Regions from separate parts of the Homo sapiens genome. Here region 1 is linked to region 2. A link means that fine-mapping ties the variant in region 2 to the expression of a gene that starts in the linked region. Tissue or cell type: whole blood. Region 2 holds a variant in brackets; the other region holds the start of a gene. All regions are shown on one strand. Distances are from middle to middle. Region 1 holds the start of GOLM1 (golgi membrane protein 1). Region 2 overlaps GOLM1 (golgi membrane protein 1).

Evidence for each region. PIP is the estimated chance that this variant, and not a neighbour inherited with it, causes the effect.
Region 1: GOLM1 starts here. The variant in region 2 is fine-mapped to the expression of GOLM1 in whole blood (TOPMed, PIP above 0.99).

What each region holds. Positions count from the first base shown.
Region 1 is chr9:86,089,885-86,107,019 of GRCh38, reverse strand. It overlaps GOLM1 (golgi membrane protein 1), which reads left to right and starts at 7,462. Exons shown (of 10, transcript NM_016548.4): 1 at 7,462-7,609. RefSeq lists silencers at 7,251-7,570, 7,581-7,680, 7,841-7,890, 12,972-13,266 and an enhancer at 7,521-8,021.
Region 2 is chr9:86,058,828-86,074,135 of GRCh38, reverse strand. All of the region lies in intron 3 of GOLM1 (golgi membrane protein 1), which reads left to right. Among named protein-coding and RNA genes, the nearest start is that of GOLM1, 33 kb to the left of the region's middle. RefSeq lists enhancers at 7,802-8,802, 8,803-9,303, 10,536-11,452. The variant A/T (reference allele first, on the strand shown) is at 4,773.

The DNA of each region.
Region 1 (17,135 bases), 32 kb before region 2:
TAGATGTGACCTCACCATGTCACCCTTGGTGGATGCCTTGGTTCACTTTTTTTTTTTTTTTTTTTGAGATGAATTCTCACTCTGTCGCCCAGGCTGGAGTGCAGTGGTGCGATCTCGGCTCACTGCAAGCTCCGCCCTCCTGGGTTCACACCATTCTCCTGCCTCAGCCTCCCAAATAGCTGGGACTACAGGCACCCACCACCACACCAGCTAATTTTTTGTATGTTTCATAGAGACGGGGTTTTACCACGTTAGCCAGGATGGTCTCGATCTCCTGACCTCATGATCCACTTGCCTCGGCTTCCCAAAGTGCTGGATTACAGGCGTGAGCCACTGTGCCCTGCCTTCTTTTTTTTTGAGACGGAGTCTCACTCTGTGCCCCAGACTGGAGTGGAGTGGCGTGATCTCAACTCACGTAACCTCCGCTTCCTGGGTTCAAGTGATTCTCTTGCCTCAGCCTCCCAAGTAGCTGGGATTACAGGCGTGCACCATAATGCCCAGCTAATTTTTTTTTTATTTTTAGTAGAGACAGGATTTCACCATGTTGGCCAGGCCGGTCTCGAACTTCTGACCTCAAGTGATCCACCTGCCTTGGCCTCCCAAAGTGTTGGGATTACAGGCGTGAGCCATAAAGCCTGGCCGGTGCCTTGATTCTTAACTCAGGTTATGAGAAAATTTTTCTAGGTGCAGAGAACTCGTCAAGTTTCATAACATGAGAGGTCTATGGGCACACAAATCAAGGTAGGATGAGAAGAATTGGGTGCAAGTGCTCTATTCCACAGCCCATAAGCACATGCTTGTGTGAAAAACAAATACACATCAAAACAAAGGACTAAAACCACTGAAATACAATTGATGTTGATATTTCAAACTTTTTTTTTTTAATTTTTTGAGACAGGGTCTCACTTTGTCACCCTGGCTGGAGTGTAGTGATGCAATCTTGGTTCACTGACGTCTTGACCTCCTCCTGGGCTGAAGCGATCCTCCCACCTCAGCCTCCCAAGTAGCTGGGAGTACAGGCGTGTGCCACCACACCTGGCGACTTTTTTGTTTTTTTTTTTTTTTGTAGAGACGGGTTTTCCCCATGTTGCCCAGGCTGGTCTCGAACTCCTGAGCTCAAGCAATCCACCCACCTTGTCCTCCCAAAGTGTTAGGATTACAGGCGTGAGCTACCACACCACGCCAGCCCCAAACTATTTTAAATAAGTATCCTCCTTTCTCAAAAGTCATTTAAAAATAAGCTATAGTAGAAGAATCATTGAGCCAGGCAACTTCTTAAGTTTGTAAGTTTACAAGTATTCTTAATATTGCTGCACAGTTAAAATAAACCATGGAATCTCTCATTCCACCGTTATAAGCCTCAAGGTCAAAAAGCTAACCTACTTCAGAAGCCTTTTGAAGGAGCTGAGGGAGTATTCTGAGAACAAAAGGCATGCAAGCATTAGTAAAGTAGAAGAACATTTTTTGTACAACTTCATCTTGATGCACAAACACACACCTTTCCCATATACACTGGACCAGGGTGTTACCTTATATTAGCTTGGTGCAAAAGTAATGGCAAGAGCCCCAATTATTTTTGCATCAACCTAAAAAAAGTAATTGTGGCTTTTGCCATTACTTTTGCACCAACCTAATATATACCAGACCTCACATCTTCAAACTGGTCCCCATGTAACAGGATACCCTCCAGCATGGTCCTTTTCCTTCCTACTTGCTCAAGGAAACTGACAGGCATTGCACACAGCTCTGCCCTGCCCCTCTGGCTGGTTCCTCTGCAGTCCTTGGCATTTGGACCTGTCTCTAACGTGTACCCCACACCAAGAAGAGCAAATGGTGAAGGCAGCTCTGTAAGAGCATCAGTCAAAAGATGTTACAGGTCTCACAATACACTACGGCACCTCTTTACTAAGCGATGGGAAGCTTTTACAAACTAATATGTCCTTCTCAATTCCAAATCACATCCAGGTTCATGACACCATGGAGGTACAATCACACTGTTTTACAACCCCAATCAATACAGAAGACTGAAGGCAGTTACTTGAATGCTTAAAATTACAAGAGCCATCTACTCTAGAATGAGGATGGATCAACGTCCAGGAATTTCTACTTTCCTTTGTACTACAACAACCTGACCTTTCAAAGGTTTGGAATAATCAGTAAAAAACCTTCTTCCAACACAGGATTTCCAGAGAGCAAAAACAAAACAATGGCAAAAACCAAACAGGATACCCGGTTAAATCTGAATTTCAGAAAAACAACACATAATTTTTTTAGTATCTGTCCCATGGTACATTTGGGAAATACTTGTACTAAAACAATTATTTGTTGTTAATCTGAAGTTCATATTTAACTGGCAAACCTACCAGGTAACAAAAGGATTCTAAGACTCTATTAGTCAGGATTATTTTGCCTGCTTGTGACAGAAACCCATTTCATTACTGGCTTAAGTAAAATGAGAAGTTAATTGGCTGATAAAACTGCTAAGTCCAGGGATAGACCTAGCTTCAGATATGGCTTGATCCAGAAGTTCAAATGACATAATCAACACTAGGTATTTGTCTCTATCTTTCTCCACATATAAGGCCCAGGTCTCTCCGTGATGGCCATAAACAGCTTGAGGCCTATATTCTCCCAATATGGGCTGCCTTCATAGGAAAAGATAACTTTTCTGTCTCAGTAGTTCCAGGGATTGTCCTATAATGGAGTCTTACTGGACTAATTGGGTCATGTGCCTCTCCCTGAACCAATTACTATAGCCTATAGAATTGGACATTGTAACAATTTCTTATGGCTGTTATAACGAATTACCCAACCTGGATGGCGTAAAACAATTGAAATTTTATTCCCTCATAGTTCTGGAGGTGTTCTTCCAAAGGCTATAGCAGGGAAACCGTTCCAGCTTCCCGTGGCCGAAGACATCCTTGGCTTGTGGCCCCATACTCCAGTCTCTGCCCTCCGTAGTCACATTTGCCTTCTATTTTCTGTCTCAAAACTCCCATTTCCTTTCCATTATAAGGACACTTACGGTTTATTCATAGCCTACCCAGATAATCCAGGATAAGAGCCCCCTCTCATGATCCTTACCCTAATTACATACTTTGCCATATAAGATAATATTTAAAGGTTCTGGGGATTAGAGCATGGATATATCTTTGGCAGGGGGCAACTGTTCAGCTTATGACAGATATTTAGGATTGAAAAGTCAGGGAGAAATAGTTCTCCAAAAAATGATGATGTTGGTACCTGAGAAAGGAAATAATGGATACTGAAAGCAAACACAGCAAGATATTTACAGCAAATACTTTTTAGTCTGTTCAATTCAATTTATTTCATGCAGTTTACCCTTGAACAATCTACGGGTTAGGGACACCCCCATCTCTGCACAGTTGGAAATCTGCATTTAACTTTGATTCCCCCAAAACTTAACTACTGATAGCCTACTGTTGACTGGTAGCCTTACTGATAACATAAACAGTTAACACATATTTTGCATGTTATATGTATTATAAACTGTATTCTTACAATAAGGTAAGCTAGAGAAAAGAAGGCAGCATTTAAGAGCAATGAACTAGGATATCTAGCAGAAGAAATGTCTAAGCAGTAAAGCATTCAAGGTGTTGCATGGATTGTTTTGGCTGCTTACAGTAAAATTAGAGAAGAAATAAATGATTAAAAGATGAAATTTATAACTAAAAAGGAAGCAGAAAAAAATTTTGAAAATTTTCAGCCTGGCCAAGAGTGCAAAGGCATGTTTGGGAGAGCCTCATAAAGATGTAAGTCCTTGTAGGGATATAGTCCAGTGGACCCCTTGCTAAAGAGATTACCATGGCTAGAAAGGAGTCAGGTGCTATTCATCAAGACAAGAAAGACCCCAATGGCATTTCAGAGATTTTTTAGGTTGCCCCTTCCATCACAGGCCCAGAGCAGGACCTTGAAGGCAAGGTTTCCAGAGACGTGGCCACAGGACCTCAGCATTTGCTACCAGGCACTGCCTCAAGTATCTGCTCCCCGCTTTCCAGCACAGCACTCCACAGCTGTTGCAGCTGTGTGGCTCAAGTGGGCCCAGCTGTGGCTTAGGCTACTGTTCTAGAGGGTGTAAGTGGTGGGCCTTGGCGGCATCCATGTGGTGCTAATTCTGAAGGTACACAGAGTTCATGAGCTATGGGGCTATGGCAGCCTCCACCTAGATTCCAAAGAATGTACTGGACAGCCTGGGGATACAGGCAGAAACTTGCCGTAGGGGCAGAACTGCCACAGAGATTCCCTACCAGGGAAATGCCTAGTGGAGCCATGGAAGCAAAGCCATAGCAGGGAACCACCACTAGGACAATGACCAATGGAACTGTGGGGTTGGGGCTGTCCCAGAGCCCCCAGAACTGTAGAGCTACCAGTGTGCAACACAGCTTGGAAGAGCTTTAGACATGAGACTACAAACCATGAGGTTCTGTGACATGACTACACCCAGCCAAGTTATACAGATGGGGCAGCCCAAGACCTTGGGGGTCCAACTCCCACCCTAGTATGCTTAGAAGGTGAGATATAGTCAAGAAAGGCTATTCTGAGGCTTTGGGATTTAATGTTATTTTTTCCCTGTTGGGTTTTGGACTTACTTGGGACCAGTTACCCCTTTATCTTACATATTTCTCCCTTTGGGAATGTGAATACCTATACTGTGCCTGTGCCACCATTGTATTTTGGAAGTAAATAATTTGTTTTAATTTCACAGGCTCATTGCTGGAGGAATTTGTCTTAGGATGAATTGTGCCTTGAATCTTGCTCATATCTGATTTAGATGAGACTCTGGACTTTCTAGTTGGTGCTAGAGTGAAGACCTTAGGGCTGCCAGGTGCAGTGGCTCATGACTGTAGTCCCACCACTCTCGAAGGCTGAGGCAGGTGGATTGCTTGAGCCCAGGAGTTTGAGACCAGCCTGGGCCACATGTCAAAACCTCATCTCTACAAAAAATACCAAAAAAATTAGCTGAGCATGATGGCATACACCTGTAGTCCCAGTTACTCAGGAGGCTGAGGTGGGAGAATCACCTGAGCCCAGGAGGTTGAGGCTGTAGTGAGCCATGATCACACCACTGCACTTCTGCCGGGGGGACAGAGTGAAACCCTGTCTCAAAATAAATAAATAAATAAATAAATATTAAAGCCTTTAGGGCTGTTGGGATGGAATAAATGTATTTTGTATGTGAGAAGGATATGAACTGGGGGTGGTGGGGGGCATAGAAGCAGAATGCTATGGTTTGAATGTGTGCTCCATAAAGCACGTGTTGAAAACTGAATCTCCAGTGCAACAGTGTTGGGAGGTGGGGCCCAAAGGGAGGTGTTTAGGTCATAAAGGCTCCACTCTTATAAATAAATTAATGCCAATTATAGAGGGTTTGAGGCTGCAAGTTCAATTTCACATACACCCTCTTGCCCTTCTGCCTTCCACCACAGGCTGATGCAGCAAGAAGGCCCTTGCAAGATGCCAGCACCTTGATATTAGACTTCCTAGCCTTCAGAACTATGAGAAATACATTTCTTTTCTTTATAAATTACTGAGTCTGTGGAATTGTGTTATAGCAACACAAAATGGACTAAGACATTAAGGAAAGGATGCTTAACAGGCAAAACATGGATGCTTCCTTCAACCAACCACTGTAGCCCCTTGCACATTGTTTAATCAAAACCCATCCAATTGAATTTTCAGGGCCAGCAACTGATTAGCTTTTTTATAAGGAATGTAAATTATGTATATAGATATATATAAAACTGCATCTTAAAATTTTCAACTTTTGTCATAAAGAATCTAACGAAAAGGACTAATTCATCTTCAATTAAAATATAGCTCATTCAGCCAGCTGCCTTAGCACCTAGACATATGGACCTGTTCCATAAAGTGTTTAAGAATCACTGAGTGAGTCGCTAATTAGTTGCTGATAAATGAGAGACTAATGGAGACCCTCCTTAGAGCCAAATGATATAGAAGTTACAGTCCACCAGTCTAAGAATGTAAACTATACTAAGAGAGCTAAAATGGGCAAGAAAGGGAATTTCCTGTACCTGTCCCCGATTATGGTTATTTAAGCTCACTAGAAGATCAAAGTGACACAACTTAAGTCTGCAAAACCAGGGCTGACATCTGATACAGCCTCAGCTTCTGAATGCTTTGGTCTGACCCTACAACAGTTTAACAGTTGCAGATAACAAAAATATCATTTTGGAATATAGTAGAACATTCCTCTAAAGGGGTCATGTATGGTCAGCTTCTAATTCAGCTAAGAGGTTTTAGCTGGTAAAGATACGTTTCCTGCAGTTAAGAAGCTCCATGCTCAGGTAGCAATAGGGTATCTTGATCACCTTTTTTAAGGTGACTCTTTGTTCTGGTTAAAATCAATTTCAGCTGTGAGCATTCCTTTAGGTGTTCATGTATTTACTTGTTTTTTTATTGTGATTTGAGAGAGGCGCAGAGGAAGGAGTTTCCTTTCCCAGACACCAGAGCTAGGAAGACATGAAGACATGATTCTAGGAAAACTGTTCTCAATCTTGGCCGTATACTGTATTAGGATTATCTGGGAAGCTCAAAACAAACAAAAAATATCAAGTTCACTTTGAACTCTGGAAGTGGGACCCTGGTTCCTAAATGCTCTAAAAGCTCCCCAAATAATTCTAATGGATGGCAGGTGCTGCCAGAGTTAAGAACCATTGCTTTAGAATTTTCTAGCATGGTTTCCCTGTAGGTCACTAGTTTTGTGGCATTCTCTCCGGGAGGTACGGCCTCATAGGGCTTCTCAAACATCAGTGCGCCTGAGCGTCATCTGAGGCGCTGTTTCAAATGCAGCTGCCCGGGCTATAAGATCACACCCGAAGGCGTCCGGGAATCTTCACTTTTTCCGTTGCTAGCAGTGGAAGGGTCACAGACCAAACACTAAGGCCTGAGCGGTGACAACCGAGGCGAGATGATGGTCAACAGGGAATGCCTCGTGGGAGAAAAAAGACAATTTTGTGAGTATAAGCCCCCTAAAAACCTGTTTTTCGTTCGCTTCCTTCTCTGGGCAGTTTTGACCCGACGACTTTTATAAAGAAGGTAACGTGAGTGTGGCGCTGGGTGCGGTTGGCTGTTCGGGAACATTCCCTCGGGGCGGAACGTGGGATGGGGGCTCCCCCCAGGTACCCTTTCCCCACAGCCGCTTCCCCGCTCCGCGTCGCTGCTCAGGCGCCAGCTCCCGCGTCGGAAGGGGCGATGGGGTGGCCCGGGGGAAGGGGCAACGCCCAGCGGCGAGAACTGGGCGCACGCTGGCGTTCCTGCTCCCGCCGAGGGGCGGCCACCGGCCGGGGCGCGCGCACCGTGGGGCCGGGAGTCCGCGCGGCCCCGGCAGCCCCTGCCTCGCTTCTCCGCGCTCGCGGCGCCGCCTCCTCCCTTCGCGCCGCCGGCGCTGCTCGGGGGCGGGGCCTTGCCGCTGCGGAGGCCGGAGACGCGGCGGCGCTGGACGCGGAGGCGCTGGGCGCACGGCGCGGAGCCGGCCGGAGCTCGAGGCCGGCGGCGGCGGGAGAGCGACCCGGGCGGCCTCGTAGCGGGGCCCCGGATCCCCGAGTGGCGGCCGGAGCCTCGAAAAGAGGTGAGTGGGCGGCGCGCGGCCCCAGGCTGCCCGAACCGCGGTCCATCGCTTCCTCCCTCCTTTGCCCAGGGCCCGTACCCCGCGCGCCGAGACCTCGCGTCGGTCCCCGGAGCCTCCCCGCGGCTTGCGCCGGGGCTGCAACCTTCGCTGGCTGCGCTCGGGGCTGGCTCCGCACCTTCCTGCACCGAGTAGCCCGCGGCTGCCTGGGCCCCTCGGCTCGCTCCCCAAGACCGGGCGCGCGGCCCCCTTGCCCTGCGATGAGGGGCCTCGCGAGGATTCCCTGCCCTGCAGTCTCAGGCGATGCGGGGCCTGTCTTTTTGTTCTGAGCTTTGTCACGCGCGTCGGCATCCAAAGTCAAAAGCGTGCACCCCCTAAGTCGCACTAGTTCCAGTTCTGCAGCGTGATTTGCACCAGGCGCGGGAGGCTGGCCGAGCCGCGAGTCTCTCGGCTCCCGCCGCCTCTTCCTCCCCTCCAGCCCCAGGCGCGCTCCGGCCGCCCTGGGGTCCACGTTGCCGCTGGGCCTCGTGGCTGGTGACCCCGGAGCTTGGGCTCCGGGTCCTCCCGCCGCGCGTCCAGAGCGCGGCTGCATCCCGTTCTCGTGGATGCTCGGGGTTTTCTCGCATACCTGTGTTTCCACCTTTGCCAACGTGGAGGATCCACACAACTTTGCCCTGCTGTAAAAATCATATCCCATTTAATATTTTTAATGATTTGCTTTTAAGAAACAAAATGTGAAGAATAACAATTTTGATGAAATTTTTTAGCAAAATTTAAGAATTATTATATTTGAAATACCATGATGATGCTGGACAATTTCAGATGTCCCATAGCCAGATTTGCAAAACTAAACTTGTGTGACTTTCACGATTTTGAGGTTTTCTTTGTCTGATTTGGGGTCCCTAGGCCCTACATTATGCACATTATTGAGGAACATTTCTAGGGCTGGATTAGTGAGATACACAATAACCTGATGAAGTATTTAGCAGCGCTTGAGTGGCTTTGTTTAGCTCATGGCCATCAGGTTGGCTCAAATCTCAGTTTTAGTATTTCTGAATTTTGGAGGGCATGGGACAATCTCTTGTCAGTTTTTGTGGGTCTCCAAAGGCATCCTAGCTTCTTCCAGTTGTGTTATAAAAGATGAAGCTAAGCTCATTACTTTCTTTCTTAATAGAAACTAGTAACTTGCTAAGACTTACTGTTTTTAGGCCAGACACTCAATTCTTAAGGTGTCAGTGAACAAAAATTGAATTGTTAGGATGGTTAAAGAAAAGAGGTTAGCTTTTAAGATACATTTTGTTCTCCTATGGAGAGGTTATCCAATTTTCACATTTTTTTTTAAAGTTGGTTTTACAGGAAAACGAAAGAAATGAGAGGAAAGTAGTGCTGAGGGTGGGGCCAGGAAATTGTGGTGACTTGGATATTAAGGGCCAGGGATACCATCTGCTTTCTAATGGCTGGTTTAGGTCCAGTTATTGATGGGAAATGAAAAGATTTTGCATTTACATTCCACCCGCTGTTGTTGTTGTTGTTGAGGGCTGGGCAGAAACAACAGTTAGGACAGCTGACCATAGCAGGCCCAGGGCTACCCGGGTTTATATATATATGGCCACCTTCCCCAGGAAGGAGGGAACTGCTACCCTTATCCTGTGAAAGTGCGAGCTGGCTTTCTGCATTGGAAGTACAGAGGGCAGAACCTGGGGAAAATGCGTCTGCGTGGATCAGTAGGAAGGGTGGAGCATCACTTTAGGCAGGTGTGCTGAGAAGAAGACAGGTGTCAGTTGATGGGCACTATTGGTGGGAGGGAGCTTGAAGGCAGCGTGGTCCCTGAGGTCCAGCCGCCTTTCTCAAAGGACCTGGGGTGGCCATTGGGGGCGGGGGAGCGGTGTTCTGTGCCTTTGGCTTAAATTCTGCAGCATTATTGTTATTACTTGTTTTTTCTTGAAATAAAAAAAAAATAAGTTGCCCTATGAAAAAAGATACATTTCTTTTTCAGTGACGTAATGTGAGAAATAACATTTGTAATTGGGATTTTTTAAAAGCACTTCTGTTTTTGTAAAACAAAACAATTTTTTAAACATTTGTAAAAAAGTAGAAGGAACAGAAGGAATGGTGCTACTATGCTTTTGCTCTCACCTTAGAAAAGGGCGAATGATATTTCACTTGCTCCCCAAAAACTGTTCTTAAAGATCATGGTGGTTTTCTGGACTTCTCACGTTATTGATGAAGTTACATTAAAAGAGAGACTTGTCTCCAAATTTATGAAGTGTTTCTTAAATTTCCAGAGAGTCTTTCCTTTCTTTCACACAGATATTTCTCACACTTTCAGGAAAAAAAAAAAAAAAAGTCCATGCCTTCTCAGATTTTTACATTTTGGTCTTATTTTCCTTTAAAACCCTTAAGCACTTTATTAGTAGGACTTCCCTTGCTAAGATTTTGAAGATTAGTGCCTGACAGAAAAAAGTACATATATAAATACTATATAATATGATTATAGTTGTTTATATTGTAATTTGCTATCGTTTCCCAACTTTTTTGATGTTTCTTAGTAATAAAAAAACTTTTTTAACACTCTTCTGTATGTGCATTTGTTGCTTATTTATAAACTACATGTATTTGCTGTTATGGTTATATTGTGTCTCAAGGCCCAATATACACATAGGGCTGGATTTGTTAACAACATTAGAGGTAGAAACCCTGTTTTAAATACTCTTTCTCTTAATTTTAAGTATTTTGGGCCTGTGTCTTGTCAGATCTGATTACATCAGCATAGTTTCTACTTCATGAGGTATCTCATGCAAGGCTGACTCAGTATAGAGCTTTGCCAGCCACGGTATTTTGCTGTCCTGTGTTTGCATTTATTAGTGGAATAAACAGACCTCTGACTTGGTAGGTCTGGGGTCGGCCACAAAATTTGCATTTCTGACAAATTCCAAGGTAATGCTGATGCTGCTAATATGGGGACCACACTTTAAGGACCATTGAACTACAGCAGGAGTTGGCAACCTGTTTCTGAAAAGGACCAGATACTATTTTAGATGTTGCAGACCCTGTGGTCCCTGTCACAACTACTCAGCTCTGCTGTTATAGCCCAGTAGCCACAGATAATATGTAAATGAATGGGCATGGTTCTGTTCCAGTAAAACTTTATTTATGGATACAGAAGTTTTAGTTTCATGTAATTTTCATGTGTCATGAGATATCCTTTTATTTCCAAACCAAAAAAAAAAAAAAAACCTATCGAGCAGTTATCATGTGGTGTGTACTTTATTGCCGCTGTAATTTTTAATCCTCACAACAAAAGGTTTTACATATTTAAAGTCTCATATCACTGCATCCTAGAACATGGGGTCAGTAGTAAGCCTACTTCAATGGACTTTTACAAGGATTGAATAAGATACAGAGAGGGGGATTATACAACTCACCAAAATTCATGCAAATAGTAAGAAAGCTAGGATTAAAATTCCTTTTGGCCTGACCCACATCAGTACTCTTTTCCTAAGCCACACTGCCTCAACAGTACCGCTAAGGAAGCACTCAAAATAACAGGTAGCTAAACTGACATCTAATATCACTTCATGGCATCCAAATTCTCCAAGGAGCACTGAACCAGGAGTCACCTGCCAGGTCAGTCTCCATCCCTCTATCAGTAGGTCTGTGTGCGAGTTGGGGAACACTGCAAGTTTCAGCTGGTTCTCGGTTCTTCTTGGTTTTCAGCCCTGCTGGGCTCTTTTGGGTCTTTCCCACGCGCGCATAATCTTCCAGGCAGCCAGGAATATGTGGAGAATTTATCTCAGCCCTTTGAAGCACTCTGTCATGAAATATTATTCTTTTAACTTTCTTCAACCATTGAAAATGTAAAAACTGGCCAGGCACGTTGGCTCATGCCTGTAATCCCAGCACTTTGGGAGGCTGAGGTGGGCGGATCACTTCAAGTCAGGAGTTCGAGACCAACCTGGCCAACATGGTGAAACCCCATCTCTATTTTAAAAAAAAAAAAAAAGGGAAAATACAAAAATTAGCTGGGCGTGGTGGCATGTGCCTGTAATTCCAGCTACCTGGGAGGCTGAGACATTCGAATCACTTGAACCCAGGAGGCAGAGGTTACAGACAGCTGAGATTGCGCCACTGCACTCCAGCCTGGGTGACAAAGCAAGACTTCGTCTCAAAAAAAAAGAAAAAAAATGTAAAAACTATTCTTAATTTGTGGGCAGTGTACAAAAATAGATGGCTGGCAGGATTGGGCCCTTGGGCGGCAGTTTGTGACTCAAGGAAAAATTGAGCTCCTACTGAGATGTATTCTTTTTTCTTTTCTTTTCTTTTTCTTTTTTTTTTTTTTAGACGGGGTTTTTGCCCAGGCTGGAGAGCAATGGCACTATCTCGGCTCACCGAAAACTCCGCTTCCCAGGTTCTAGTGATTCTCCTGCGTCAGCCTCCCAACTATCTGGGATTACAGGCATGCACCACCACGCCCGGCTAATTTTGTATTTTTAGTAAAGACAGGGTTTCTCCATGTTGGTCAGGCTGGTCTTGAACTCCCGATCTCAGGTGATCCGCCTGCCTTGGCCTCCCAAAGTGCTGGGATTACAGGCATTAGCCACCGTGCCTGGCCCAAGATGTATTCTTTTTTAAATATTTTTTTGTAGAGACAGGGTCTCCCTGCATAACATTGCCCAATCTGGTCTCGAATTCCTGGGCTCAAGTGATCCTCCTGCCTCAGCCTACCAAAGTGCTGGGATTATAGACGTGAGCCATCGTGCTGGCCCCAGGATATATTCTTGACGGTGGTTCAACCTTTCTTCAGAAAATTTCAAAACAGGAAGAATTTGGTTCCCTAGTTCATTTTCACTCATCCACCTCGCTTTTTGGTGTTTCTACTACCTACCACTATACATTCATTTTAAAAGTTTTAATCTTTAGACACTGTCAGCTTCTAGCATTGGGGAAAAGATGGTGTTCATTTTGGGGAAGTGAGAGGAAGAGAGTCTGTGTATTTCCTAGTAAGTTTTTAAAGCAATTTAAGCAGAACACAGTGACCTTGGTCATTTAATCCCAATGGGTTAGAGGCAGAGTTGACAAACTGTCTAAATGGTCAGATGGTAAATGTTTAATCCTCACAATACCCTATGGGCAGAGTTGGTCTGTGAGTCTCTGTCTCTGTCTCAACTTTTCAGTTCTACTTTGTAGCCAGAAAGCAGCCATAGGCAGTATTTATGGCAGTGTATAGTAAAACTTTAAAAAAAAAAAAACCAGGCCCGGATATGGCCTGTGGGCCATAGTTTGCTCACCCCTGGCTTAGAGACATTCTTGGGACAGGGTGGAATATTTCCAGGCCATCAGAAAACTTGGTGACTGATTCTTTCCCGGACTCCAGGCTGCGCCGGGGTGTGCTCAGGTCTGTTTGCTCATTGCAGTGACTTCTGAACTTCCTGCTGAGCCGCTGGGGCCATTCCTCTGAGAAGGAGTTAGAGGTGTGGCTCCACCACTGTTTGGAGAAGCCCAGTTTCTGCACTGGTTGATGTTGGTCAAACATGCTAATCTGACGCGATTGCTCCTATATATTTGCTTTTCTGATTTAAAGCCCTATATGAAAATAAGGAAATGTTAAACATAATATTTGACTAGGAGGGTCAAGGGGCTCGTGTATTTGGCATGTTGTCCATTTTCATATGCCTTTTCTTTCTTTTAAAAAAAGTAATTAGAAGGCTTTGTTAAATTACAAACATTTTGTCTTAAAAGCAAATAATAATTTTAACCAATAGGTTGAATTTTTAAATTAAGCCAGTAGGTAAGAATATGCAGTTTTTTCCTTTTCTGATTTATCAAGTGATTTTTTTTTTTTTTTGACAGAAATCTTGCTCTGTCGCCCAGGCTGGCATGCAGTGACGCAATCTCAACTCACTGCAACCTCCATCTCCTGGGTTCAAGCAATTCTCATGCCTTAGCCTCCCAAGTAGCTGGAATTACAGGTGTGTGCCACCACACCCAGATAATTTTGGGGTTTTTTTGTTGTTGTTTCTTTTTTTTTTTTTTTTTTTGAGGCAGAATCTCGCTCTGTCACTCAGGCTAGAGTGAGTGGCGCAATCTTGGCTCACAGCAACCTCTGCCTCCCAAGTTCAAGCGATTCTCCTGCCTCAGCCTCCCAAGTAGCTGGGATTACAGGCACACACCACCATGCCCAGCTAATTGTATTTTTAGTAGAGACAGGGTTTTGATATGTTGGCCAGGCTGGCCTCAAATTCCTGACCTCAGGTGATCGTCTGCCTTGGCCTCCCAAAGTGCTGGGATTATACACATGAGCCACTGTGTACACCCAGCCTATCAAGTGATTTTTAATGTGAAAACACACCACTTGTTTTAATTTTGGGAAAGCCTGGAGCCTCACAGAGTTTAGCTGATTTAAGTTAATCATTTTCAGTATGTTGGAAGCTTATAACCAAGTATGAGACAAACATATTCTGAAGCTTAAATGAAAATGAATATTAAATTAATACCTCTGTTTGATGCAGTATATCACTCACCCACTTCCATCTCATCCGCAATCCAAATAAATTCTAAGGTGGGAGAAGGGAGAGTGTCTGATGTATTTGACCACCATAAACTCTGCCTGTGAGTTCCTGCCACCAGCCTTCATCAGTCTTGATCATTTCTCGCCAGTGTGTGTCCCTTATCCTTCAGCAGCAAGGGTTTCTACAGTCCTGGAAGCCTGTGAGGAGGCACCTTGCAGGCCTGAAGCCTCATTGTGTTACTTCCTTTCCTTGTGTCACTATTTACCTGGGCAGCCCTGCTCCCATTGGGAGCCCAGGGCTCTCCTAAGAGTGCTGTCTAGACAGCTGCTCACCTTCCTGGCCAGCCAAGCACTGGGTGACAGTGAGGGGCTTCCAGGATTGTATGACTTCCAGGACTGTTTGAGGCTTGGCTTCCTCAAACCTTTTTCATAATATGATCCTGGTCTGGGATGTCCACGGCCTCAGTGGCAACTGTAGGTCAGCCCCAGGTAATGGCAGGTACTGCTATTTTAGTTGGTGGCAGAGTCAGGAGAAGGAAAGAGGAGGACTGGTTGCTATAAAGTAGAATGGTTATGGAAGGAAAACATGCATCACTGTTTCCTCATAAAATGGAAAAAAGATTGAATCTAGAAATGATTTGTTGTTCATCTTTCCATCCCTAATAGTTGTCAACATTTGTTGAGCAATTACTATGTGCCAAATGTAGCTCTAAGCGCTTCTCACTCAACTCACTGAATCCTCTTAAAAACCTTGTGAGCAGGACAGTGATGCACAGACAGGTCCTGTGTCCCCTGAGTGGTAGAGCAAGGGTCAGACATGGTTGTGGGGTTCCAGTCTTGGAGTTCCTGAGTGGTGGAGCCAGTGTCAGACATGGCTGTGAGGCTCCAGTCTGTGGGGTTCCTGAGTGGTGGAGCCAGGATTCAGATATGGCAATGGGATTCCAGTCTGTGCTCTTAATACCACCCTGAGCTGCCTGATGTGAATACAGCACCTGACTCATGGTAGCTGCTCAATAAATTTTTTATTGGCTGTTTAAAGAAAAGAGAATATTAAATGGTTATCTGTACACTTCCCTTGAAGTGAGAATGGAGTTTATTTTCTGCTTTCAAATTTATAATATACCCCACCCACTGACTTACCTCTACTAGAATAACAAAAGGCCTTGCAAGGGTCACATCTAAAAGTATTTTGTCAAGCCATGTGCGGCAGCATGTGCCTACTCGGAGACTGAGGTGTGAGGATTGCTTAGGTCCAGGAGTTCAAGGCTGCAGTGAGCCATGATTGTACCACTGCACTCCAGCCTGGGCGACAAGATTCCATCTCTTTAAGAAAAAGTATATTGTTAGAAAATTTAGTATATAACAAAGATAGTTGTTCAAAGCAGTAGGTAAAAATAGATTATTCAGTAGAGGGCCCTGGCAGAACTGGCTTGTCACTACAGGAAAAAAAAAAGCTGCATTCTTTGTATTTCCTTACTTCTGCATTCTTTGTATTTCCTTACTCCTTACATCAAAAAGGAGTTTTAAATGGATGAACAATTTAAATGTAAATATGAAACTGTACATTGGAAAAAAATGTGGGTAAGTTGTTTATAAACTTAGAATAGGAAATGCCCTTCTAAATATAACAACAATCGAGAAGTAATAAAGGATTGACAAGATTAGGTTATTTAAAACAACAACAGAGTGGCTGGTAAGATGGCCAAATAGCAACAGCTCTGGTCCGCAGCTCCCAGCGAGATCAACACAGAAGACAGGTGATTTCTGCATTTCCAACTGAGGTACCTGGCTCATCTCACTGGGACTGGTTAGACGGTGGATGCAGCCCACAGAGGGTGAGCAGAAGCAGGGTGGGGCATCGCCTCATCTAGGAAGTGCAAGGGGTTGGGGAACTCCTCCCCTAGCCAAGGGAAACTATGAGGGACTGTGCCATGAGGGACAGTGCACTCTGGCCCAGATACTACGCTTTTCCCATGCTCTTCGCAACCCACAGACCAGGAGATACCCTCAGGTGCCTACACCACCAGGGCCCTGGGTTTCAAGCACAAAACTGGGCGGCCATTTGGGCAGACACTGAGCTAGCTGCAGGAGTTTTTTTTTTTTTTTTTTTTTTTTTTTTGGTACCCCAGTGGCACTTGGAACGCCAGCGAGACAGAACTGTTCACTCCCCTGGAAAGGAGGCTGAAGCCAGGGAGCCAAGTGGTCTAACTCATTGGATTCCACCCCAATGGAGCCCAGCAAGCTAAGAAACACTGGCTTGAAATTCTTGCTGCCAGCACAGCAGTCTGAAGTTGCCCCGGGATGCTCGAGCTTGGTAGAGGGGAGGGGCATCCGCCATTGCTGAGGCTGGAGTAGGTGGTTTTCCTCTCACAGTGTAAAGAAAGCTGCCAGTTCGAACTGGGTAGAGCCCACTGCAGCTCGGCAAAGCCACTGTGGCCAGACTGCCTCTCTAGATTCCTCCTCTCTGAGCAGGGCATCTCTGAAAGAAAGGCAGCAGCCCCAGTCTTACAGATAAAACTCCCAGCTCCCTGGGACAGAGCACCTGGGGGAAGGGGTAGCTGTGGGCACAGCTTCAGCAGACTTAAATGTTCCTGCCTGCCAGCTCTGAAGAGAGCAGCAGATCTCCCAGCATAACACTCAAAGTCTGCTAGGGGACAGACTGCCTCTTCAAGTGGGTCCCTGACCCCTGTGCCTCCTGACTGGAAGACACCTCCTAGCAGGGGTTGACAGCTCACCTCATACAGGAGAGCTCCGGCTGGCATCTAGTGGGTGCCCCTCTGCGACAAAGCTTCCAGAGGAAGGAACAGGCAGCAATCTTTGCTTTTCTGATGCCTCCACTGGTGATACCCAGGCAGTGTCTGGAGTGGACCTCCAGCAAACTCCAGCAGACCTGCAGCAGAGGGGCCTGACAGTGAGAAGGGAAACTAACAGAAAGGAATAGCATCAACAAAAAGGACATCCACACAGAAACCCCATCTGAAGTTCACCAATATCAAAGACCAAAGGTAGATACATCCACAA
Region 2 (15,308 bases):
TGTGGGGACCTGTGGCTGGGGGTGGTTTGCAAATGACACCTGACCTAGAGATTTCCCTGCCTGTCTCTGCCAGCGTTCCTCACCTCAAGCAGTCACTGTCACTCTGGGTAGGTGTTATATCCCTCAAGTTGGGGGCTGGACAAAAGCTTGGAAACCAAACCTGTCATCAGGGAAAATGTGAACAAACACCTGTTCATAATGAAATTACTGCTTTGGGTAGGCCCTGTCTGATAGAATTTTCTATGATGGCAGAAATGTTTATAGTACAGTAGCCACCAGCCACATGAGTCTAATGAATACCTGAAATGTGGCTAGTGGGACTGAAGAACTGAATTTTATTTAATTTTATCGAACTTAAATGTAAATAGCCAAATAATGGTCACATTGGACAGCACGGGTTTGTGTGGTTGGCAGAATGCTGGGGAAAACCTTGTTTGGGCCTCTGAGTCATAGGGAGCCATGTTCCTCAGTGGAGCGGAGGGCAGAGTCTGAGTCTCCTGTGGTTCCTTGGTGCCTTTCCCCCTTCTCTGTAAGGTTCGGGAGCAGTGTGGGCAATTGGGCAATGGAAGATGAAATCACCTTCAACCTGGGGAGTTGTGCACCCCCCTGAAAGTAAGTCTCTGCAGCTTGCTGGTGTTCTGATGCAGAATGATCTGTTCAGCTTATCAAATCAGCTTTTGTTTACACCCCAGCTTGGGGTTTTGATCTTATTTGTTATGGAAGTTGTTTCAGAGCAATCCGTCCTCACCTGGCTGCTCGTGATAACCACCTGCGAGCTTATGAACAAAATACAGATTAAAAATATACACTAGATCAGACTCTCTGGATGTTTGGGCTCAGAATATAGAATTTTTAAAAATATCTCACATATATATAAACATACACATATTCATACATGTACTTTTTTTTTTTTCTAAACTTCCAGACCACTGTGATGCAGCTAGCTGATCTAGAAACCGGTGATTGAGATCAAGTGTTTTGCAGAATTACACTTTTAAAAATAAAAATGCATTGTCAAGGTTATCTTTTTTTCAGTTTCCTTTTTACCCTTCTTCAGTGAAGTGATTTAAAAATTAAAGGGCATTGTAATTAAGATGTATGCAGTCATGCGCCACATGTGATGTTTTGGTCAATTATGGACCCATCAAATTCTAATCTTTTCTATGTTCAGATACACAAATACTTACTACTTTTACTGTATCTTTTCTGTGTTTAGATACACAAATACTTACCACTGTGTTACAAGGCCTGCAGTATTCAGTACAGTCCCATGCTGTACAGGTTTGTAGCCTGGGAGCATTAGGCTGTAGCATACAGCCTAGGTGTACAGTAGGCTATAATATCCAGGTTTGTATAAGTGCATTCTATGATGGTTACACAAAGACAAAATCTCATAATGATGCATTTCTCAGAGCCTATCCCCATCATTAAGCAATGCATGACTGTAATTCATCTAAATGTAATTTGATAGAGCTGTTACAAAGTAATTGAGTTAATGCTTGTTTTTCTGAGGGATTTCTTTCATCTTTACCCACATTTACTGGAATCCTTGAACATTTTTCAAAGCTGTGCCAGATTGGAAACTTACTCATCACTGCTTTTTTCCCAGAATAGCCATCTCACCCAGGATTTGTGTATACGTGGATCTCGAGGTCCTCAGCACTGAGACAGGCTTGCTCAGACACCCCTTAGAATGTCACCCAGGGTGGGTGGGCAAGTGTAAGACATTGCATGAGCTTCTCAACAGCTGTGTGATGGTGACATAATGAGACATAGAATGGTTTTCTTATGAAATAGCTGGACATGCAGAGAGGTCAGATGAATAATAAGCTCACACCTGCGTGCCCCTCACCCAGATATTATTTAAAGCAAAAAACATCATAAATACAGTCAAGGTTCTCTATGTTCCCCTTCTCCGTCTCTTCTCTCCTTTCCCTCCTGCCTGTACAACCACTGTTGTGAATGTTAATGATTGTCTTTGTAGCTTATATTTCTGAACTATTACTATACACGTTCAAAAACAACATGTATATTTTTTCTCTGGTTTTAATGTATATGTTTGGTCACTATCATTTTATAACTTGCTTTTTGTAGTCACCATTGTTTTTGAGGTCTTTATTGATTTGATAGATTTAGTTCATTCTTTCTCACTGCTGTACCCTCTTTCTTTGTATAAATATACCCCAGTTTATTTACCCACTCCTTATTGTAAGCCTTTGTTTCTAGTTTTTTACTCCTTGAGAGAAGGTACAGTGAGTATACTCATACAGTGCTGCTCAGGCACCTGGGGGTTTTCCAAGCTTGCAGTGTTTGCCAACTACAGTTTGGGACCTTTTAGTGAGCTATGCTTAATAATTTAGTGGATAATGACCCACGTCTTAAAAAACTAAAAATATTAGAGTGTTATTGTATATGTTAACTGTTGCGTTATGAAACTATTATTGCTTTTTTTTTTTTCTTTTTGAGACAGAGTCTCACTCTGTTGCCCAGGCTGGAGTGCAGTGGCACGATCTCGGCTCACTGCAACCTCCACCTCCACCTCACAGCGTTTCTCACAGCCTCCCGAGTAGCTGGGATTACAGACCTGCACCACCACACCCGGCTAATTTTTGTATTTTTAGTAGAGACGGGGTTTCTCCGTGTTGGCCAGGCTGGTCTCGAACTCCTGACTTCAAGTGATCCACCTGCCTTGACCTCCCAAAGTGCTGGGATTACAGGCATGAGCTACCATGCCTGACCACCATTGTTGCATTTTATATTAAAAAAAATAGGTGCTTTGGGAGGCTAAGGCGGGAGGATTGCTTGAGGCCAGGAGTTCAAGACCAGCCTGGGCAACATACTGAGACCCTGTCTCTACAGAAAATTAAAAAGTAACTGGGAATGGTTGTTGCATGCCTGTAGTCCTAGCTACTCAGGAAGCTGAGGTGGGTGGATCACCTTGAGCCCAGGAGTTTGAGGTTCAATGAACTATAATTGCACCACTGTGCTCCAGCCTAGGTGACAGAGCGAGACCCTGTTTCTAAATATACGTGTGTGTGTGTGTGTGTGTGTGTGTGTACATGTATATATGTGTGTAAATGTTTGTACTGAATCACAAGATAAAATTTATCATTGTGGGTCATGGTCAAAAGAGTCTGGAAAGATATAGAGATACACCTGGACGTTAAGTAGCTGGATGGTTGTACATCCTCTCATTTTTATTAGCTGTTGCCACAGAACGTTCCTGCTGTTATATTTCACTTTGTACAACTTCCTGGCCTGCAGATCAGATCCTTTGGCCCTACATTTCTGTGTGTAATATTTCACTCTTTTCTTATTTCTTGCAATCTAAGTTTTGCGCCTGATCAATTAGCTTATCTCATGGGTTTGAGACTGTTACTTAGTAAAAGTTCGAGTTCGTGGTAAATGAATGAATGGGAATCTCAGTCCATGTACCAGTACTTACTGGATGTCTAGGATGTGCCTGGGGCCCTGTGTCCTTAGCAGCTTGAATGCTGTTTTGGAGGAAGATGAGATTCCCTCACATATCTAGAGAATAATCAGGTTTTTTTTGTTTTTTTTTTTTGAGGTGGAGTCTCGCTCTGTCGCCCAGGCTGGAGTGCAGTGGCATGATCTCAGCTCACTGCAACCTCCGCCTCCTGGGTTCAAGCAGTTATTTGCCTCAGCCTCCCAAGTAGCTAGGATTACAGTCACGTGCCACCACACCCGGCTAATTTTTGTGTTTCTAGTAGAGACAGGGTTTCACCATCCTGGCCAGGCTGGTCTTGAACTCCTGAGCTCGTGATCCGCCCACCTTGGCCTCCCAAAGTACTGGGATTAGAGGCATGACCCACTGTGCTGGGTGAAAATAATCAATGTTTAACAGCAGGTGGAGTTACATGAAAGGAGAGATGGGTATTGGCTAAAGCAGTTGCAGTTTTGTTTTGTTTTTTTCTCTAAAAAGATTGGCTTTAGGTCGGACACGGTGGCTCACGCCTGTAATCCCAGCACTTTGGGAGGCTGAGGCAGGCAGATCATGAGGTCAGGAGATCCAGACCAGCCTCGCCAACATGGTGAAACCCTGTCTCTACCAAAAATACAAAAAATTATCCGGGTGTGGTGGCAGGCACCTGAAATCCCAGCTACTCTGCAGGCTGAGGCAGGAGAATCGCTTGAACCCGGGAGGCGGAGGTTGCAGTGAGCCAGGACTGCACTACTGCACTCCAGCCTGGGTGACAAAGTGAGACTTCATCTCAAAAAAAGAAAAAAAGATTGGCTTTGAGCCTTGGAGACTAAAATGGGATTTAGAGAAGGGTAGAAGGACAGCATTTCAGTGCAGTCAGAGGATTAGAAAAGGAATGTGGAGGTGTGACAGGTCCCACCTAAGTTGGGAAGAGTGTTGCGAGATAAAGATGTAAAATGGCAGGTGTCATTGCTGGCCTCAGCTAACCCTCTGCCCATGTGGAAGGCTAGGTGGCCATGTGTGTTCCATTTTAACGACCCCACACCCATAGCCCACTGGATGAGAGGAGGAACCTCACACAGGAGGAATCCGTCCACTGGCTAGAGTATTAATGGGTTAATTAGATTATGTCTCGTTAATCTGAACCAAATCCTGCAGACTGTGCTCATTCGAGAGTAAATACTTCAGATGAGTGAGACTCAGTTCTTGGGGATTGAGCTGCCATTTCCGTTTCCTTTCTTTTTTGCCTCCCTGTCTGTTGCAGTAGTAGGTGTGGTGAAGATGGTTTGACTGCATCAGTGCAGTTGTGCAAGTTCATGAGAATTTATGT[A/T]ACTTAGTAGAAGCACCACACTTCCTTTTCTGTGTATAAGAAAGGATATTAAGCCGCCTTTTGCAATGATTGTGTATGTTAAGTAACTTTCCAAAAAAGTTGGCTTTTCCTTAATTAAAATAATGTTATAAGCAAATTTGAAAACAAAAAAGAAAAATTCACCTGTAGTTCTCACTCAGAAATTAGCTATTGAGAACTCTCCACTCCCTTTCTTTAAAAAAAAAAATAGAGATTACATGTAAGCTTTTATTAGTTACTACTTAATAATATACTTATAATACTTTATAAATGTAGGTATGCCATGAAAATTGTAGAATATAAGTGGGGTTCTTTAAATGATAAAACGTTTAGCCATTTCTGGCTTTTGCATATTGTTAAAAAAAAAAACCCAGACATTGTTGGCTTATTGTACCTTACTATCTTAGTTGAGGCAACCACTTTGTAAGTAGACACTGAGAGGTATAATTGCAGACAAGAGGACTCTGCATACCTGTTTGCAGAAGGGAGCTTCTGTAGACTTCCCTGATACCCAGTTGGGACTGGTAACTATGTTTTGAACACAAAGCATACGTTTGGTTCTGGTGAATTTAGACACACGTGTTGTTTTTGTTATCTGTTACTGCATATCAGGTTATCCCCAAACATAGTTAAACCCATAACAAACATGTATTTTGCTCCTGCATCTGCAGTTTGGGAAAGCTCAGTGGGAACGGGTTGTCTCTACTCTGCACTGCATGTCTGGGGTGCCTTGAAGGCTGAGGTTAGAATGATCAGAGAGTCCCTTACTCAGGGGCCTGGCAGTAAGTGCAGCTGTCACCTGAGACCTGGGCAGGGGCAGGGGCCAGGACCAAGACACCTACACTCCCTTTTCCACGTGGCAGTGTGGCTTCTTTTCAGCAAGGGCTGGGTTTTGAGAGTTAGCATCCTCGCTCACAGCAGACCTGACCAGCGGGAGGAAGCTGTGTCATCTTTTGTATTTGGGTCCTAGGGCTGCGTACAAATTAATACAGACTAGATAGCTTAAAACAACAAAAATGTATACTTTTACAGTTTTGAGGGCTAGAAGCCTGAAATTCAGGTGCCAGCAGGGCTGTGGGAGGACACTACCTCGCCTCTCTGGCTTCTAGTGTTTGCTGACACCTTTGACGTTCCTCAGCTTGTAAGTGCAGTTTTGTGCAATTTCCACCTCACATGGCCTGCTTGCCTCTCAGTCTTTCTTTTCGCCTCTTCTCCTCCTCTTATAAGAACACCAGTCATATTGGATAGGGCCCACCTAGCGACCTCATTTTAATTTAAGTACATCTGCGTAGACCTTGTTTCTTTTTTTTTAAATTTATTTATTTATTTATTTATTTTTGAGACGGAGTCTCACTCTGTCGCCCCAGGCTGGAGTCCAGTGATGTGATCTTGGTTCGCTGCAACCTCCACCTTCCAGGTTCAAGTCATTCTCCTGCCTCAGCCTCCTAAGTAGTTGGGACTACAGGCACCCACCACCATGCCCAGCTAATGTTTTTTGTATTTTTAGTAGAGATGGGGTTTCACCACATTGGCTAGGCTGGTCTTGAACTCCTGACCTCAGGTGATCCGCCCGCCTCGGCCTCCCAAAGTGCTGGGATTACAGGCATGAGCCACTGCGCCCGGCCAACCCTGTTTCTAAATGAGGTCATTCATGGGCTCCTTCACAGGTTCAACATGGACATGAATTTTAGGTGTACACTGTTCAACCGACGGCCCCTTTTGTTGACCTTGCCTTGGAAATGAGTGTGGTCACTTCTACATTCATTAGAAGCAAGTCACTAAGGCTGCCCCGAATTTCAGGGGAATTGGACTCCCCCTTTGGGAGTTAGTGTCAATTAATTTGTGGTAATGTTTTTAAACTACCACATTCGTGTGCATAGAAATAATCTTCACGCAACCACCAGTGAAATACTGTTTTCTTTTTTACAGATTCATATATGTGTACATATAAAACAGGTTTTTAAGGGGCCTAACTAGAAACAGATACTTGGGTTTTAGTTTTTGGTAGAAGCCAATGGAGATTCACTTGTAAAGGTGTGCATTCTCTCCTAAGGAGGGCACAGAGTGGTTTAATTCATTCTTTTATGTTGTTAACACAGGCTGATTAATAATTTGGGTCTGGGCCAGGCATGGTGGCTGATACCTGTAATCCCAGCACTTTGGGAGGCCAAGGCCGGTGGATCACTTGAGGTCAGGAGTTCAGTCAGCATGGCGAAATGCCGTCTCTACTAAAAATACAAAAATTAGCTGGGTGTGGTGGTGCATGCCTGTAATCCCAGCTACTTGGGAGGCTAAGGCAGGAGAATGACTTGAACCTGGGAGGCAGAGGTTGCAGTGAGCTGAGACCATGCCAAGCACTCTAGCCTGGGTGACAGCGAGACTCCATCTAAATAATAATAATAATAGTAATAATAATAATTTGGGTCTGAAGACTTCCAAAGATCCTGGGTCCCCTCTTGGCTAACTGCTGTTCAGTGGCCAGTAGTGGCCACAAAGGCTTGGGGGTGGCATCACCTGCCCTCTGAAATGCTTGGGGAAGAGTCTGGGAGACCCTGAATTACTTACTAGCACTTCGTGAAGGGAAAGGCACATCTTCCTGCTATTGTGTTCATTTTTGCTTGCCAAAAGTTCAGTCACAAATAGCTTCATTTTCAGCATTTGCACTTGTAACATTCTCGCTCGGCTGGTTTCTCGCAGCTGCACATCCACTTTGACATTTATACTTTTTACTTATTTGTTAAAATATGTGCATTAATATTGCAGAGGTGCAAAGGTAATGTTTTAGCAACAGTTCCTTTGTCATGAAAATAGAGTTCTTGTATCTTTCCTGAAGGGGAGCAACTGAGTTAAAACAAAAAGATTGCTGAGTGGAAGAACAGAGGTGTTGGTGACTTGCTTATCGTTTTGTGTCCAGAAGAAGAAAAGCTTAAAGAGGCAGTGGGAAAGTGCAGGGGGCGCTCAGCCTCACTGTTGTCATGCTTGCCTGTGTGACCTGTACCCATGTCCAGGTGGTTTCAGGGAGCTGCCCGGTTTCTCCTCTTGCACAGTAACTTGGGGTACGAGGAGGCTCTGAGGTGTTTACAGTGCTTTTCTCTTGTAAAGAGCTGGTTCATGGAGTGCGTTCTTGAGTGTCTTCTGAGCCTGGGATGGGGTCACTTCCCTCAAATACAACAGCATTTGTTTATGAGTGACTTTTGCTGAAAGATTTTGCCTCTTCAAAATAAAATAATTAACAAGTCTGGTCATTGGTCCTACTTGAGAGTTTCAGAGTGCTTTTGTAACATGAACATATTTATTTATTTTCTGGAGACAGAGTCTCACTGTGTCACCCAGGCTGGAGTACAGTGGCGTAATCTTGGCTCACTGCAACCTCCGCCTCCCGGGTTCATATGATTCTCCTGCCTCAGCCTCCCGAGTAGCTGGGATTACAGGCAGGTGCCACCACGCCTGGCTTATTTTTGTATTTTTAGTAGAGATGGGGTTTCACCATGTTGGCCAGGCTGGTCTTGAACTTCTGACCTCGTGATCTACCCTCCTCAGCCTCCCAAAGTGCTGGGGTTACAGGTGTGTGCCACCGCACCCAGCCCGACATGAACATATTTAATTTCTAACTTCATTTCTTTAGGAGACAGTCATTCTTGTCGCTTGAGACAGAGGGGAAGAGAGTGAGAGCCAGAGAGGTCATGGAAGGCTCCCGGCACCTGAGAGTGGCCGGCGTGGGGCTGCCGGGGGCTGCCAGGTCTGCTCGTCACACTGGCCCCACCAGACTGCATTCTCCTGTGGCCAGATGCAATTCTCAGAGGGTTCTGGTGTCTTCTCTCTGGGCCAGCTTTGCTTGTGCACCTGCGAATGTAATGATTGTCTTCTGGGGGAACCAAAGCGATCTTGTGCAGATAAAAGTGGTGTCTTTGATTTTTATCACCTTTAATCGCTGTGATTGATGAATCCAGAGTTCTAGAGCAGCTTTTCTGTTTTTATTCTCACCGATTTTCCGGGTCCAGTTCTGTCAGTCCGTTCAGTATTTGTTCTGTTCTGCCCTGGCCTGTGCCCAGTGGTGGGGAGGCTGTGTTCATTGCACATTTACCATTGAGTGCTGGACAAAGATGAGGAAGTGAGTGTAGTGGGGTCAGTGTAGACAGAGAAACCACCCAGATATTTTAAGCAGGAAGGATTTGATACAGGGAAATAGATACTGTAAGCTGTGGGAAGGGCCTGCATTGAGGTGGGGTGGCTCTCAGGCACTATCTCAGGACCTGCCCCTGTGCCCAGCGTAGAGCGTGAGACCAGCGGGGTTCTGCTGCAGTGCAGGCCCAGAGTCAGGGGCACCCCACTTTCTCTGTTCTGCACCTCCCACACCCTCACTCTGTTCCACATTCTAGCCTCCAGTAAGTGCATCTGATTGGAGGCAGAATCCCACTGGAAATGATTCTGGAAGGTGCATTTTAGCTTCCGAGCCTTTGTGGTTCAGGAAAGCACAGCAAAAGGCGTGTGGAACCGACGTGGAGGAGCCGATCTGCTGCATCCCCCACCAGGCAGGCGGCTCAAGGGCCATGGGAGTCAGCAGCGCTGTCCCCCACAGTGTCTAACCTGGAAGGGTGCCTAGGGAACTGCGAGTGGCTGGGCCCGAGCAGAGTGTGATGTTGGGGTGCAGGAGTTTGGACTTGAGTTTGAAGGAGTTTGGACTTGAGTTCAAGACCGGGGAAGCCGTCATAGGGTTTAAGCTGTGATGGAGCAGTGTGGTCAGATGTGGGATTTAAAAGGCAGGCCCTGGCCATGTGGGGAGAGGGCTGGGTGGGGAGCAGGGCAGAGAGGAGGCAGCACAGTGAGGCAGCTCTTGAAATACTTGGAGTAAAAAGTGATGTTGCACTGAATTTGGGCAGGAGTAGGATGAGCTCTGCAAAGTGAGCAGATTTGGGAGGCAGCCAAGAGGAGGGATCAACAGGCCCCGTGACAGATGGGATAGGTGCGGGAAAGTGTGAATTGAGCAGAATGGAAGCAGGTCAGTAAAATCCATTGAAAATTTGCTGCCCTGAAAATAAAAGTGTTTGTCTCAGAAGACTTCTAGTCTTTTTAGATTGGAAATTCTCCAGTTTGTCAATTGGATTCAACCTTCAAATACAGGTTTATAATTAAACTCAAGTAATTTGCTTCCCACACTTAAAAATACATTTGTAGGAGAAGCAGCAAACATGCCATTCAGGTAGATGTCCTTCACTGCAGACTGTGCCTCAGTGGGTGTCCTAGTGCTGGGTCCTCACCTCCCACCTCCAGGGAGGGGCCTGAGCCTGTCATGGGATGTCCTGGACCTCAGGAGAAGACTCAGATGCCTATTTGATTCAGGACGTGGTTTGATTTTTAAACATGCCATGGACAAGTTCCACATGGAAAGCATTGTCGTGCAATGTGAGGTTGCCCACGATGGTTAGCGGCTGACCAGACGAGGCATGGATTTCATGTGCATTGATCTCTGTTCCTAATGGGACAGAACCAAATCCTGCAGGTGTCCTCGCTCTTGGCCTTGGCTTCATACGCACTAGAAAGAGCGTTGGCGTGTTTGATTGCCATAGAAGGCGTAACGGAGGCTTTGGGTTTTGCTGTTGTGGTTGGCTTTTGTCTTGTTCTCTCTTCACACAGAAAATTGCTTGAGTGACTTGGAATTGACTCCGTTTACCTTCTGTAATTCTTAACCCAACCCAAGACAGGCGTTTGATGGGAAATACGTAAAGAAAATAGGAGGTAGCTGTTTTTTCACTTACCGTCTCTGGCAGGGATCTGCAGTCATTCATGTTTAAGAACAAACAGTAAGTAGGGTCTGTTAGGTGCCTTGACTGTGACGCTGTAACCTGTACACTTGGTTCAGTTTTAGTTTCTCTTTCATCCCCAAAGGTCTGTGTACGCCTTTTTACCTGTCTGCAGAAAGTCAGAATGTACAAAAGTGTCTCCTCTTCCGCAGGTGGGAGCAGGGAAGCTGCTAGGATTCCCGTTTGAAAATGGAAACCCCCAGTGCCCTCAGGTGGCTCAGCCCTGGGGTGCCCATTGAGATTGGGAGTCTGCAGCCCCAGGCCTCCAGCCCTTGCACAGGGCATTTCCTGGCTGGTTAAAGAACAGCCAGGGAACGAATATCCAGATTGCTGGTGCTGTGTTGTAATCCGGCATTCTTCTTCCTCTAAAAACGGAGCTGGAGCTTTTCAAGCCCCCGCTCCTGGGTCAAGCCCTGTTGGCAGTGTGTGGGGTGCTCCTCTGGTTCGGCAGCTCCTCCCCTGCCATCTCCTTAAGTGTTCAGGAGTGAGAGCAGCGGGAAGAGCTGAGGGGCAGCTTGGGTGGTGCTGCAGAGGGGACAGACCAGTGTGAGCTGCTTCAGGGGCAGCCAGGTTCCCTGGCAGCTGGGTGATGAGGAGACCTTCAGAAAGATCCAGGGTCAGGGACTAAGAAGACAGGCGCTCGTCCACTGCTAGAGAAGCCTCAAAGTGCATTCTGGGGTTCCCACTGTCCTTCAGGTTTGGATCCTCCTGGAAGTTTTATTTGACCCAAGTCACGTGTAGGTTAGAGGCACAGGGGCAGGCTGCTACCAAAGGAGACAGTGTAGCAGGTTCTCAGAGGCAAGGGCAGCCCCCCCCGTTTGCTTCTCCTCCTTTTTCCTTCCTCCTGCCTCCCCTCCCTCCATCCTTCCTCTTCCTTTCTGTCCCTCCACCCCTCTCCCTTCCTTTGTCCTTTTCCTCCCTCCATCCTCCTCTTGCCCTCCTCCCCTCCAGACCCTGTCTCTCTCCTCTTCCTTCCATCCCTTTCCTCCATCCTACTCTGTCCTCTTTTCTTCCCTCCTCCTCTCCCTCCATTCTCCCTCCTCCTCTTCCTCCCTCCTCCCCCGTCCTCCCTTCCCTCTGTCCTCCTTTCTCTCCCTCTCCTCACCATCCTTTGCTCTCTCCTTCCTCCCCTTCCCCTCCTCCCCATCCTCTCTCCTCCCTCCCCAAAGCACCTGCAGTGTGCCCTGTGCAGGAGATGCTGGGGGAGGGTGTGAGCCAGTCTTGGGTTCAGGCCCCCTCGCCATCAACCCTGTGCTTATGTCTGTGATGGCCACCACACCTCATGGACCTTGTTCTGCCAAGCTGGGCACCCGGGTGACCCCAGGGCGGGTCCTGGGAGCATCCTGCACTCTCCCAGCGAGGTGCTTTCCCACACCCGCCAAGCTGCAAGGTGGATGGGGTGGGAGGATGTTACCTTCCCTGTGACAACACAGGGATGTGTTGGCAGGAGCTATTCTGGGCGTGTAGCAACTGTGTCTGTGTGTCCTACGTGTTTTCCTGGATAGATGGTGTTTTCTGAAGCTTTGTAGAAAGTTACACTTAATCTCCCGACGCCCTTCCATTTAAACTTGGTGACTTGTGCACACTGTCCCATAGCTGCAGGTCCAGACCCGCCTTTCTGCCCATCTGGGTCCCCTGCCCTGAAGCCTCCTCAGCTGCTCTCTGACCAGGATCCTACCATTTACGCTGACATTTGACTCTATCCCCTAAACCTTTAGCCACTCCTCTCCTCCTGTTGGTATTCTCACACTCAGTTCAACTCACACTCACAGACACTCATTCACACTCTGACCCATGCCCCCATATTTGGGTTCCCACTTGAGGTGTCTGTAAGGTGCCCCTTTAAATAAAACTCAGCAGGCCACCCTGCTTAGGTTCCACTTTGGGGAAACAGAGGCACAGAGAAGTTAAACGAAGCGTCCAAAGTCAAGGAGCAAATTAGCAGCAGATCCCAAACCGGATGCCACAGTCTCAGGTCTTCAAGAAAATCTCTCCCATCCCGGTCTTCCCTCTGCTGCCCTCTTTCTCTGTTACTCGTTTTTCTTTTCTTTTTCCTCCCTTTATCCTCATTAGTGAGCTTCGAAGGCCATTTGTCATAGTTGATAATTGTTGATGGAGCTATACTATGAAAAGAAAATTGCTTAATTTTAGGAGTGAAATTACAAATGAGAAATACTGCAGCAAAGACCTGCCCTTCTAAAAGTTCTTGAATCTACCTCAAATTTCTCCAGACAACAGGTTTATCTCAGCATCTTCTAATTCACCTTTCTTTTCCTCTAAAACCAGCCTTGAAGTTAAGATTTTTAAAAAATTGTACTTGGCAGATTTAATTATCAATGTGGCAAGCTTATGTGTGCCTGTGTGTGTTGGCTGATTGTAGAAAACCGTAAACATGAAAAGGTAGACAGAGTGACCCAGTGAGCCCCCACACATCCAGTGCCAAGCTTCAGCGATTACAACTCGTGCCGTTTTAACCATGACTATTTCAGCACACGTCCTGAAAAGGTGGGATTGTCTGTCTCTCATAGCCACAATACCATGATCATACCAAAACATCCAGGAATTCCTCATGTCAAGTATTCAGTGTCAGTCACAACATTTCTGTGTTGTGTAACTTCTTCTTCTTCTTCTTTTTTTTTTTTTTTTTTTTTTTTTTTTTTTTTTTTTTGAGAGAGTTTCGCTCTTGTTGCCCAGGCTGGAGTGCAATGGCACAATCTCGGCTCACCGCAACCTCTGCCTCCCAGGTTCAAGCAATTCTCCTGCCTCAGCCTCCCAAGTAGCTGGGATTACAGGCATGCACCACCACACCCAGTTAATTTTGTATTTTTAGTAGAGACGGGGCTTCTCCATGTTGAGGCTGGTCTGGAACTCCTGACCTCAGGTGATCCACCCGCCTCGGCCTCCCAAAGTGCTGGGATTACAGGCGTGAGCTGCTGCGCCCGGCCTGTGTGTTATGTAACTTCTTAACCCACAAAACATAATCATGTCATCTTTAGGGGCTTGTGGACTGGACTAGTTTCCTCATCACTTTGTGCCCTTGTCCCTATGGGAACATGCATCCAGCGACCCACCATTTGGCTCAGTGGTGGCTGTAGGCATGAAGCATTTGGGAGTCACTGCTTGTCTTGTTGTTTGTGTGTGTGAATGAGTGTGTGAGTGTGTAATCTTAGCAGGATGCCATAAATGACTTGTTTGCAAGTCTCTGCCTCTCTCTCCTTCCCTCTCCCCGCTTTCCCTGTCTCCCTCCCCTTCTCTGTCTCCCTCTTTGCCCCCACCTTCTTATTCCTCTGGAACTTGCTGTCCCTAGCTGCAGGTGGCTGTGAGCACTTAGCATGTCCCAGCTGAGATGTCCTACAAGTGTAAGATATGCTGGAGTGCAAAGATTGAGTGTGAAAATGCCAAATTTCTCAATAATTTTTATGTGGAATACATCTTGCAATGATAATTGGGATACATTAGGGTAAATAAAATATTAATTTCACCTGTTTCTTATTTTTAAAGTTGGGATAAAATTCACATAACATACAATTCATTATTTTAGCCATTTTTTAATGTATCATACATCTCAGTGGTTTGGGTATGTTCACAATGCCATGCAACTATAACCACTGATTCCAAAACTTTTTTTTTTTTTTTTTTTTTTTTGAGATAGACTCACACTGTGTCACCCGGGCTGGAGTGCAGTGTTGCCATCTTGGCTCACTGCAACCTCCACCTCCTGGGTTCAAGTGATTCTCCTGCCTCAGCCTCCCGAGTAGCTGGGATTACAGGGATTACAGGTGCCACCATGCCCAGCTAATTTTTGTATTTTTAGTAGAGACGGGGTTTCAGTATGTTGGCTAGGCTGGTCTCGAACTCCTGACCTCAAGTGATCCACCCACCTCGGCCTCCCAAAGTGTTGGGATTACAGGTGTGAGCCACCACGCCCAGCCAGAACATTTTTATCACCCCACAAAGAAATGTGTACCCATTAAGCAATCACTCCCCATTTCCCTCTTCCCCTAGCCCCTGGCAACCACTAACCTGCTTTCTGTCTCTAGAGATCTGCCTATTCTGGACGTATCATGTAGTATAGAATCATGCAGTACGTGGCCTTTGTTTTGTGTCTGGCTTCTTTCGCTTAGTGTAATGTTTCCAAGCCTCATCCGTGTTGTAGCATGTGTCGGTAATACTTCTCTCCTATGGCTGAACGATAGTCCCTTAGGTGGATATACCATGTTTGCTTTATCTGTTCGCCTGTTGACGGACATTTGGATTGTTACCACTTTTTGGCCTTCATGAATAATTCTGCTGTGAGCATTTGTGGACAGGTTTTCCAGTGGGGATATGTCTTCTTTCTCTTGGGTGTACACCTACAAGTGGGATTGTTGGGTCATATGGTAGCTCTGTGTTGAACTTTTTGAGAAACTGACAGACTTTCACAGGGATTGCATTTTACATTCTTAGCCACTGTGTATTGGGGGGGGGTTCTAGTTTCTCTCCAGCTTTTCCACATTCTTGTCAACACTTGTTATTTTCCTTTTTTATTTTTATTTATTTATTTTTTTGAGACAGAGTCTCACTCTATCACCCAGGCTGGAATGCAATGGCTCAATCTCGGATCACTGCAACTTCCGCCTCCTGGATTCAAGCGATTCTCCCTACCTCAGCCTCCTGAGTAGCTGGGATTACAGGCACCTGCCACCACATCCGGCTAATTTTTGTAGTTTTAGTAGAG